Regions from separate parts of the Homo sapiens genome. Here region 2 is linked to region 1. Evidence: fine-mapped expression QTL. A gene starts in region 1. The other region holds a variant in brackets. All regions are shown on one strand. Distances are from middle to middle.

The links. PIP is the estimated chance that this variant, and not a neighbour inherited with it, causes the effect.
Region 2: its variant is the best candidate, but not a certain one, in a credible set for the expression of TPPP3 in whole blood (INTERVAL, PIP 0.76).

What each region holds. Positions count from the first base shown.
Region 1 is chr16:67,391,164-67,395,548 of GRCh38, reverse strand. It overlaps TPPP3 (tubulin polymerization promoting protein family member 3), which reads left to right and starts at 2,051. Exons shown (of 4, transcript NM_015964.4): 1 at 2,051-2,169. ZDHHC1 (zDHHC palmitoyltransferase 1) reads left to right here. Exons shown (of 12, transcript NM_001323627.2): 9 at 1-65; 10 at 269-362; 11 at 487-547; 12 at 656-1,397. The coding sequence ends at 939.
Region 2 is chr16:67,272,813-67,277,197 of GRCh38, reverse strand. The region is part of intron 2 of LOC124903701 (a long non-coding RNA gene); the gene reads left to right. Among named protein-coding and RNA genes, the nearest start is that of PLEKHG4, 4.5 kb to the left of the region's middle. The variant A/G (reference allele first, on the strand shown) is at 2,613.

The DNA.
Region 1 (4,385 bases):
CGGACCTTCAGACATATGCGCCCAGAGCCCCCTGGCCAGGCCGGGCCAGCAGCAGTGAATGCCAAGTGAGTGCAACCTGGGCATGTGCCACTGGGCATCTCCAGTTAGCATGGCAGGGCCATCGAGGCAGGAGAAGGGGGTAGGCTAAGGTCGGGGCATGGGTCAGGCCCTTCTCTGAGCTAACAGGAAGGGAAGCTTCTCTCAGCACCTCCAGTGGGGAGGGATTTGGGGAACAGGCCCCAGGCTTACCCTCCTGCTTCCCCCTCAGTCCCTCCCAGTTTCTTGCCACCCGTGGCCAAGCGGAACCTCCACCACCCTCTTCCCCAGACACTCTCGCCCTGCCTCCCCGGATCCGACCCCAGGTAGGAGGGACTGTGCTGGGCCTCCGGTCCAGGTGGAGTGGGATAGAAAGAAGCCTCTACCCTGGCGCTCGCCTCTGCTTCTTTTGGCGATGTGGGGCCCTCAGGCTCCCCCGTGTCTCTGCAGAAAAAGAGGAAGAGGCGCGTGTATAAAGTGCGAACGTCTGAGACCTCGGATCCGGCGTCGGGTGAGCGCCTCTCCCTGTCCGGGTCCTGCTCTGGGAACTCGAGGGAGGGGAAGGCAGAGCCACAAGCGAGCCGCAGCCACTGGGCTCATGTTCCCTTCCCTTGCGCAGGGCCTAGGGCCCCCAGCCGCCGCTCCAGCTCGTCGACGGATTCCGCGGACGCCAGCCCTGTGCACGCCGCTGGCCCTGCCGGCGCCTACCACTCGGCGTCGGCAGAGTCCGTGGACGAGATTCCAGTGGCGCAGACGCGCCTGGGCAGCGCCGCTCTGGCCGCCCCGCGGGGCCGGGGCCGACAGCCCACGCTGGCGCGGCAGGCGCGTGCGCCCGCCGTTTTCGTGAGCCCGAGCAGCGGCGAGCCCAGGGCGCCGGGCGGCCGGGAGGCTGGTCTGGCTTAGCTGGGCCGAGAGGCCGGAGGGCCGAGTTAGAGCGGCCGGCCTGACTCTCTATGCAACACCCCATCCTTGCCGCACCGAGTGCACTTTAGGGGCCCCTACGGCCGGCGGGATCGGCCTCCCTCCCCCACGACTCAGCAATACCCGCCCCACCGGCTGTGATGCTCCAATAAACTTTTTTATGCTTTTGCGGACGTCGCGCTTACTTTCTTAATGGCAGGGGCCACGGGCCATCCAGAAGCCCGACCCTGGCCAGTGGACCGGGGGCGGGGAGGAGGTCCCTGTATAGTAGGTAGCCACCCAGGCTGCCCTGTGGAGGTGCTCACGTGCGGCTCGTGGTTAGGAAAGGCCTTAGAAGGCGGCCTGGAGGAGGTTATTTTTCTTAAAGATGGGCTTTGCACTGGGAGGCCGAGAGAAAGCAGGCTTTGGGCTCCGAAAGCAGCAGTGGGCGCTGAGGCTGCGAGGCCGTGGGGAGGTGGCGGCGAAAGGAGGGGGCCGAGCCAGGAGGTCCCGCAGCTTTTCCCCGGCAGCAGGGCTGCCGTCGAATGCCAGCATCCTGGGGCTGGGCGAGCGCGATTCGCTCGTAGGGAGTCCCCTCCCTTCTTCCCCACTGCTCCAGGCTCTGAATCCTACCCAAGAGAGCACGGGAGTTGTGGCCTGGGGGTGCCATCCGTTCAGTGGATGGCAGTGCTCTTGAGTCAACCGTATACCCCTGTCACTGAGGGAGAGCTCCTTCCCGATTCCCCAAGCCCCACCAATGCCCCGCGCAGCTCCCCAGTGGCCTCTGGTTGACTCTCTGGGGAGCTGGATCTCTTCTGGAGATTGGGGCCGCTTAGAGCTTTAGGCACATCCCAGGATGGGAGGCTGTTTCCTCAGGGGGCCGTCCGAAGACGCCCCGAACTGCAGAGCGCTGGTCTCGCCGTCGCGAGGACCGCGGAGTTGCGGGGGAGGGGCGGGATGCGGCTCCCGGAGAGTCTCGGGGAGGGCGGGGCCTCGTGGGCGGGGCCGGCGTGACCTTGGTCACTCTCCCGCCGAGACAGCCTCGGGGGTGGGACTCGCCGTCTCTATGGAGACCGAGAAACAGGGGATAATACGGCGGAGCCGCCTGGGCTGCAGTCCCACCCGGGAGCCGGCAGGGAGCGGAGCTGCGGAGCCGCCTGGTCTCCCGCGTCCATCGGTCCATTCCTGCGTCGTTCTGTCCTTCCGAACGCACACTTCAGGAGCAGCCGCGAGGTAGAAGCCCATAGGAGACCCAGATGCCCGCCACCCCAATCAGTATCCTGCACGATGAGGGTTGGGGGGAGCAGCCTGGAAAGGGTCCCAACCTCCGGCGGTCCCAGCCGAGGAGCCAGCTGAGCGGCCCTGCCCTGGCCCCAAGCATTCCACCTCGCAGCCCCCACCTCCTGGTCCGGCTGATTGATGACTCCAGCTGTCCCAGTGGGAGCGGGACGGGTGGCTCCAGTTCACGGGTGTGGCCACTCCATCCATGGCCTGCAGACCCATGGGGCTGCGGCCTGCAACCCAGCGCCACCTGACCGCGCTGAGATGACCAAGAATCCATCTTTCCACGGACAGGAGTGAGCACTGCACGCAGGATCCGCCCAGTGCTTGGGCCAAGCACCCTGTGGCATCCAAGCTCCCCTGGACGTTACCCTTGGTGAACCAAGTGCGGGTCTTGGGGTCCCTGGTGGGAGGTTGCACCCAGGGAAAGGGAAGGGGAGTGCAGCGTGGACTGGGGTTATGGTCCCTGTAACGTAGGAACCACCGGTGCTCACAGTCCCAGAAACTGCCACTTAGGGATGGGAGTGTGGTCACTGGCGAGGAGTTTTTGGTGGAAGATGGGGCAGCCGGGCAGAGCCCAGGCCGTGGTCACTGGAAGCCCTAGTGTAAAAGGCAGAGCTAGAAGATGGTTGCTGAGACCGAGGGTGTGGTCAGGAGGTGGCAGTGGAGGAGGGGGATGTGGTGGGGAGGTCTCTACGCAGGGGATCTCCGCATAGTACCTGGGAGTCTTATAATGTTAGTGTGTGGATGTGGACTGGGGCCTTCAGTGCAGGCTGAGGGTGTGGCCAGAGGGCTGAGGGTGTGTGGACAAAGGGGTGCTGAGGGTCAGGGCGCCTTGATAAAGGGCTGCGGGTATTGGAGGGGGTGAGTGGCTGAGGCTATGGTCAGGGGTCTCAGGAAGGGATGCAGGTTTGTGGCCAGGGGCCTCAGCCCCAGGGCTGCGGGTGTGGGGATGGAGAAGGCTGCTGTGTAGGCTCAGGGTGTGGCCAGGGGTCTGCAGCGGAGGGCTGTGGGTGTGGGGGGCACTTTAGTGCTGGACTGTGGGTATTACTGGGGTTGGCGCAGGCTTGTTAGTATATATGTGGGGGCTGGTGGCCGAGGGCTGTGGCTGTGGGTGTGAAGATGGAGGATGGAGGGCTGAAGGTATGGCCAGGGGTACAAGGCCCAGGGGGTGGCAGGCCAGGGCTGAGTGCACAGGGTCGCTGGGAATGTGGGCTGGTGTGGCCAAGTTCAGGGCGTGGCCAGGGGAGGTCTGAGGTGTAGACATGATGAAGTGTGTTTCAGCCACAGCCCCACTTGCCAGCACGACTCTTGGGGTTCGTAACTCTACAGCCCCCACGCTACTAGCCCCCAACCTCCTGCTCCCCCAAAACTCCACAGTGGGAGGTTACAGCACCAGTCGGTGGCAAGGGGCCAGGAAGCCACGGTTATGCCCTAGGCGCAGGGAGTGCTGGCGTGCCCCACCCGTGGGCCCCAGCTTCCCAGCCCAGCCCAGCCCCTCAGCACTGGGAGCTTCTCCCTGAGCTGCCCTGACACCATCCTGCCCTTAGCAACATTCTCCAAGCAGCACCACCCTCCCTTAGCAACCGTCTCCAGGCTTCACAAACTGTGGCCAGGCCAGCCCCAAGCTCCCCTCATGTTTTTGTTTAACAGCAAATAGTAACAAGGCCTTGCTGGACCAGCTGCACCCCTGCCCAGGGCATGCACCCGTGCCCAGACTGGCTCTTGCTGGGTCCTCATGACCCTTACAGAGATGCTGTCCTCACTGAATGCCTGCCCGACCAGCAGCCTGGCCTGGCCCCAAGCCAGCTTGGCATGGAGCTTCCAGGGAGGGGGCCTGCTCTGCCACCCTCACTTCCACCCAAGCAAGGCCTTGTGCCAGGGCCAGACAAAGCCAGGGCCCCAGCTGCTGCCCTAACAGTCTTTCTGGACAGTGCCACTCTGTTCCCTGTGGGCATCATTATTTCATCTGCTGAACCCTGCTGAGAGCCAGGGCTGGCATTAGTGACAAGACCGTGCCTCCCGGGGCTCTTCCTTGGGGCTCTGTGGCCCAGGGCGACAGTGACGGGCCCCTCTCCCCAGGCAGCTCCAGCACCAACTCTGTAGCAGAACCTGCCCAGGTCTTGCAGGTTTGAGGTAGAGGCTGGGATGTTCTGGGCTTGGGGGAG
Region 2 (4,385 bases), 120 kb after region 1:
ACCCCATCTCTACTAAAAATACAAAAACTAGCCAGATGTGGTGGCACATGCCTGTAATCCCAGCTACTTGAGAGGCTGAGGCAAGAGAATCACATGAACCTGGAAAGCAGGGGTTCCAGTGAGGCAAGATCACACCACTGCACTCCAGCCTGGGTGACAAAGCGAGACTCTGTCTCAAAAATAAATAAATAAATAAAAAGGAGGGGAGGGCTCTGGGCCTCACTGGGTCTAGTGACAACAGACCCACAGTCATTCACCTTGCACACCCCTCTTCAGTACTACCCCAAATACTGAGGGCAACAAATACCCCAGAACTTCCAGACCTCTCTTGCCTTTGGCCTAAATAAACTCCAAACTCCTTGGTATGACAGTCAAGGCCACTTAGAGGCATCACAGCCTTCCCATCTACCTCCCAGACTGGCCTGGAAAACAAATCTGATTACTAGTCTAGTCTCACACTGGCTCCTCTTCCTGAAGGCCCATGCCCATCTCCCCTAATCAAAATCCTTCCTCATTTGAGGCCTGGGTGCAGCATCTCCTTCACGAAGACTACCCCAGCCAAGTTCTCTCAGCTCAGGCCACCCTGCCCAGTCACATGGCAAGGACCCATGGATGAGCGCTTGACGCACTTGCTCTCCTGCATCCAAGTCACCTGCCTGCCTCCCTGTCAAACCCACCATGTTCATCTGCCCCCACCACTGCAACCTCCATCTCCTGGGCTCAAGTGATTCTCCTGCCTCAGCCTCCAGAGTAGCTGGGATTACAGGCATGCACCACCATGCCCAGCTAGTTTTTGTATTTTCAGTAGAGATGGAGTTTCAGCATGTTGGCCAGGCTGATCTCAAACTCCTGACCTCAAGGGATCCACCCGCCTTGGCCTACCAAAGTGCTGGGATTACAACCATGAGCCACCGCACCCGGCCCGACAAATAATGACATTTATGATCCCTTACCTTGAGCCAGGCCCTGGGTAGATTCTTCCCATTAAATTTTGTCATTTAATCCTGACAGCAGCCTTATGAAGTGAGTATGATTATCTCATTTGAGAGATGAGGACACTGAGGCTCAGAGAGAGCATGTAACACACCCAGAATGACACTTGTGAGTGACAGCTGGGGCTGTTGACTCTAAACTGTTGACTACGGCCGGGCGCAGTGGCTCATGCCTGTAATCCCAGCACTTTGGGAGGCCGAGGCGGGTGGATCACCTGAGGTCAGAAGTTCGAGACCAGCCTGGCCAACATAGCAAAACCCTGTCTCTACTAAAAATACAAAAAATTAGCCGGGCATGGTGGTGGGCACCTGTAATTCCAACTACTTGGGAGGCTGAAGCAGGAGAATTGCTTGAACCTGGGAGGCAGAGGTTATGAGCCAAGATCATACCATTGCACTCCAGCCTGAGTGACCTGACTGAGACTGTCTCAAAAAGAGTAAAAAATAAAAATTAAAAAAATAAACTGTTGACGACTAGTTAACTACGAGGCCTTATCACTGTGGCCTGTAAACAACCTAAGGGCAAAGCCCAAGTCACTCTTCCTTCTCATCACACCTTCCCTGCGCATAATGCAGAAAAAGTAAAGGTAAGTTGGCTAAAAGTATAACCTTCCAAGTGTGTCAAAAGTCCTTCAGATCCAGACAGCCAGAAAGTAGGTTAGTTATTACCTAGGGCTGAGGAGGGCCAGGGATGAGGACTGACTGCTAATGAGTACAGGGTTTTTTGGGGGATGATGAAAATGTTCTAAACTTAGATTGTGGTAAGGGCTGCACAACCCTATGGGTATATTCAAAACACTGAACTGTACACTTAAAATGGGTGAATTTTTATGGTATGTGACTTATATCTCAAATATATCTCAGCTACTCAGGAAGGCTGAGGTGGGAGAATCAGGAGAATAGCTTGAACCCAGAAGGCAGCGGTTGCAGTGAGCCGAGATTGCACCATTGCACTCCAGCCTGGGCAACAAGAGCGAAACTCCATCTCAAAAAAAAGAAAAAAAAAAAAAAAGAAATCCCTAGATAAGAGCAGTCCCAAATCCAATTCCCCTGGTGTCTAAAGGACTTAAAACAAAAACAAAAACTTTGGCCCAGCACAGTGGCTCACGCCTGTAATCCCAGCACTGTGGGAGGCCGAGGCAGGTGGATCACCTAAGGTCAAGAGTTCAAGACCAGCCTGGCCAACATGGTGAAACCCCATCTCTACTAAAAATAACAAAAATTAGCCAGGCATGGTGGCGCTCACCTGTAATCCCACCTACTCGGGAGGCTGAGGCAGGAGAATGGCTGGAACCCGGGAGGCAGAGGTTGCAGTGAGCCGAGATCGCACCACTGCACTCTAGTCAGTGCAGTGCAGTATATGTGTGTGTATATATATATATATATGTGTATATATATGTGTATATATGTATATATATGTGTGTATATATGTATATATGTGTGTATATATGTATATGTGTGTGTATGTGTGTGTATATATGTGTATATATGTGTGTGTATATATGTGTATATGTGTGTGTATATGTGTATATATGTGTGTATATGTGTATATACATGTGTGTGTATATATATGCGTATATATATGCGTGTGTATATATGTGTGTGTATGTGTGTGTGTGT[A/G]TATATATATATATGGGGTTTTTTTGGTGTGTGTGTGTGTGTGTGTGTGTGTGTGTGTGTGTGTGTGTTTTGAGATGGAGTCTTGCTCTGTCACCCAGACTAGAGTGCAGTGGTGCGATCTTGGCTCACTGAAACCTCCGCCTCCCGGGTTGAAGCTATTCTTGTGCCTCAGCCTCCTGGGTAGCTGGGACTAAAGTTGCGAGTCATCACGCCCAGCTAATTTTTTGGATTTTTGGTAGAGACAGGGTCTTGCTATGCTGCCCGGGCTAGTCTTGAACTCCTGGCCTTAAGCGAACCGCCTGCCTTGGCCTCCCAAAGTGCTGGGATTATAGGTATGAGCCACTGTGCCCAGCTCTCAAAGATTTTTTTTTTTTAAGATGGAGTCTCTCTCTGCCCCCCAGGCTGGAGTACAGTGGCACGATCTCAGCTCACTGCAACCTCTGCCTCCCGGGTTCCAGCCATTCTCCTGCCTCAGCCTCCCGAGTAGGTGGGATTACAGGTGAGCGCCACCATGCCTGGCTAATTTTTGTTATTTTTAGTAGAGATGGGGTTTCACCATGTTGGCCAGGCTGGTCTTGAACTCTTGACCTTAGGTGATCCACCTGCCTCGGCCTCCCACAGTGCTGGGATTACAGGCGTGAGCCACTGTGCTGGGCCAAAGTTTTTGTTTTTGTTTTAAGTCCTTTAGACACCAGGGGAATTGGATTTGGGACTGCTCTTATCTAGGGATTTCTTTTTTTTCTTTTTTTTTCTTTTTTTTGAGATGGAGTTTTGCTCTTGTTGCCCAGGCTGGAGTGCAATGGTGCAATCTCGGCTCACTGCAACCGCTGCCTTCTGGGTTCAAGCTATTCTCCTGAGTTCAGGTGATTCTCCCACCTCAGCCTTCCTGAGTAGCTGGGATTACAGGCGTGTGTCACCACACCCAGCTAATTTTGTATTTTTAGTAGAGACTGGGTTTCTCCATGTTGGTCAGGCTGGTCTCGAACTCCCAACCTCAGGTGATCCACTCACCTTGGCCTCCCAAAATGCTGGGATTACAGGCATGAGCCACTGTGCCCGGCCATCTAGGGATTTCTATTCATGTTTCTGGACCCCACACTATCTGATTTGCATCATAAACACTCAGAGATGGCCAGGTGAGGTGGCTCACACCTGTAATTCCAACACTTGAGGAGGTCAAAGCAGGAGGATTATTTGAGGTCAGGAGTTCAAGAACAGCCTGAGCAACATTGTGAGGCCCTACCTCCAGGAAAAAAAAATATATATATTATATAATATATATAATATATATTATATAATATATAATTATATAATATTATATATTTATTATATATAATATATATTATATATTATATATTTATTATATATAATATATATTATATATATTATATATTATATTAATATATAATATATAATATATATTATTATATATATTATATATAATTATATATATATATGCCAGGCACAGTGGCTTACACCTGTAATCCCAGCACTTCGGGAGGCTGAGGCAGGCAGATCACTTGAGGTCAGGAGTTCGAGACCAGCCTGGCCAACGTGGTGAAACTCTGTCTCTACTAAAAATACAAAAAATTAGCCAGGCATGGTGGCATGTGCCTCTAGTCCCAGCTACTCAGGAGACTGAGGCAGAATTGCTTGAACCCAAGAGGCAGAGGTTGCAGTAAGCCGAGATCATGCCACTGTACTCTAGCCTGGGTGACAGAGTGAGATCCTGTTTCTAAAAATAAATAAATATAATAAAAACAAAAACTAAAA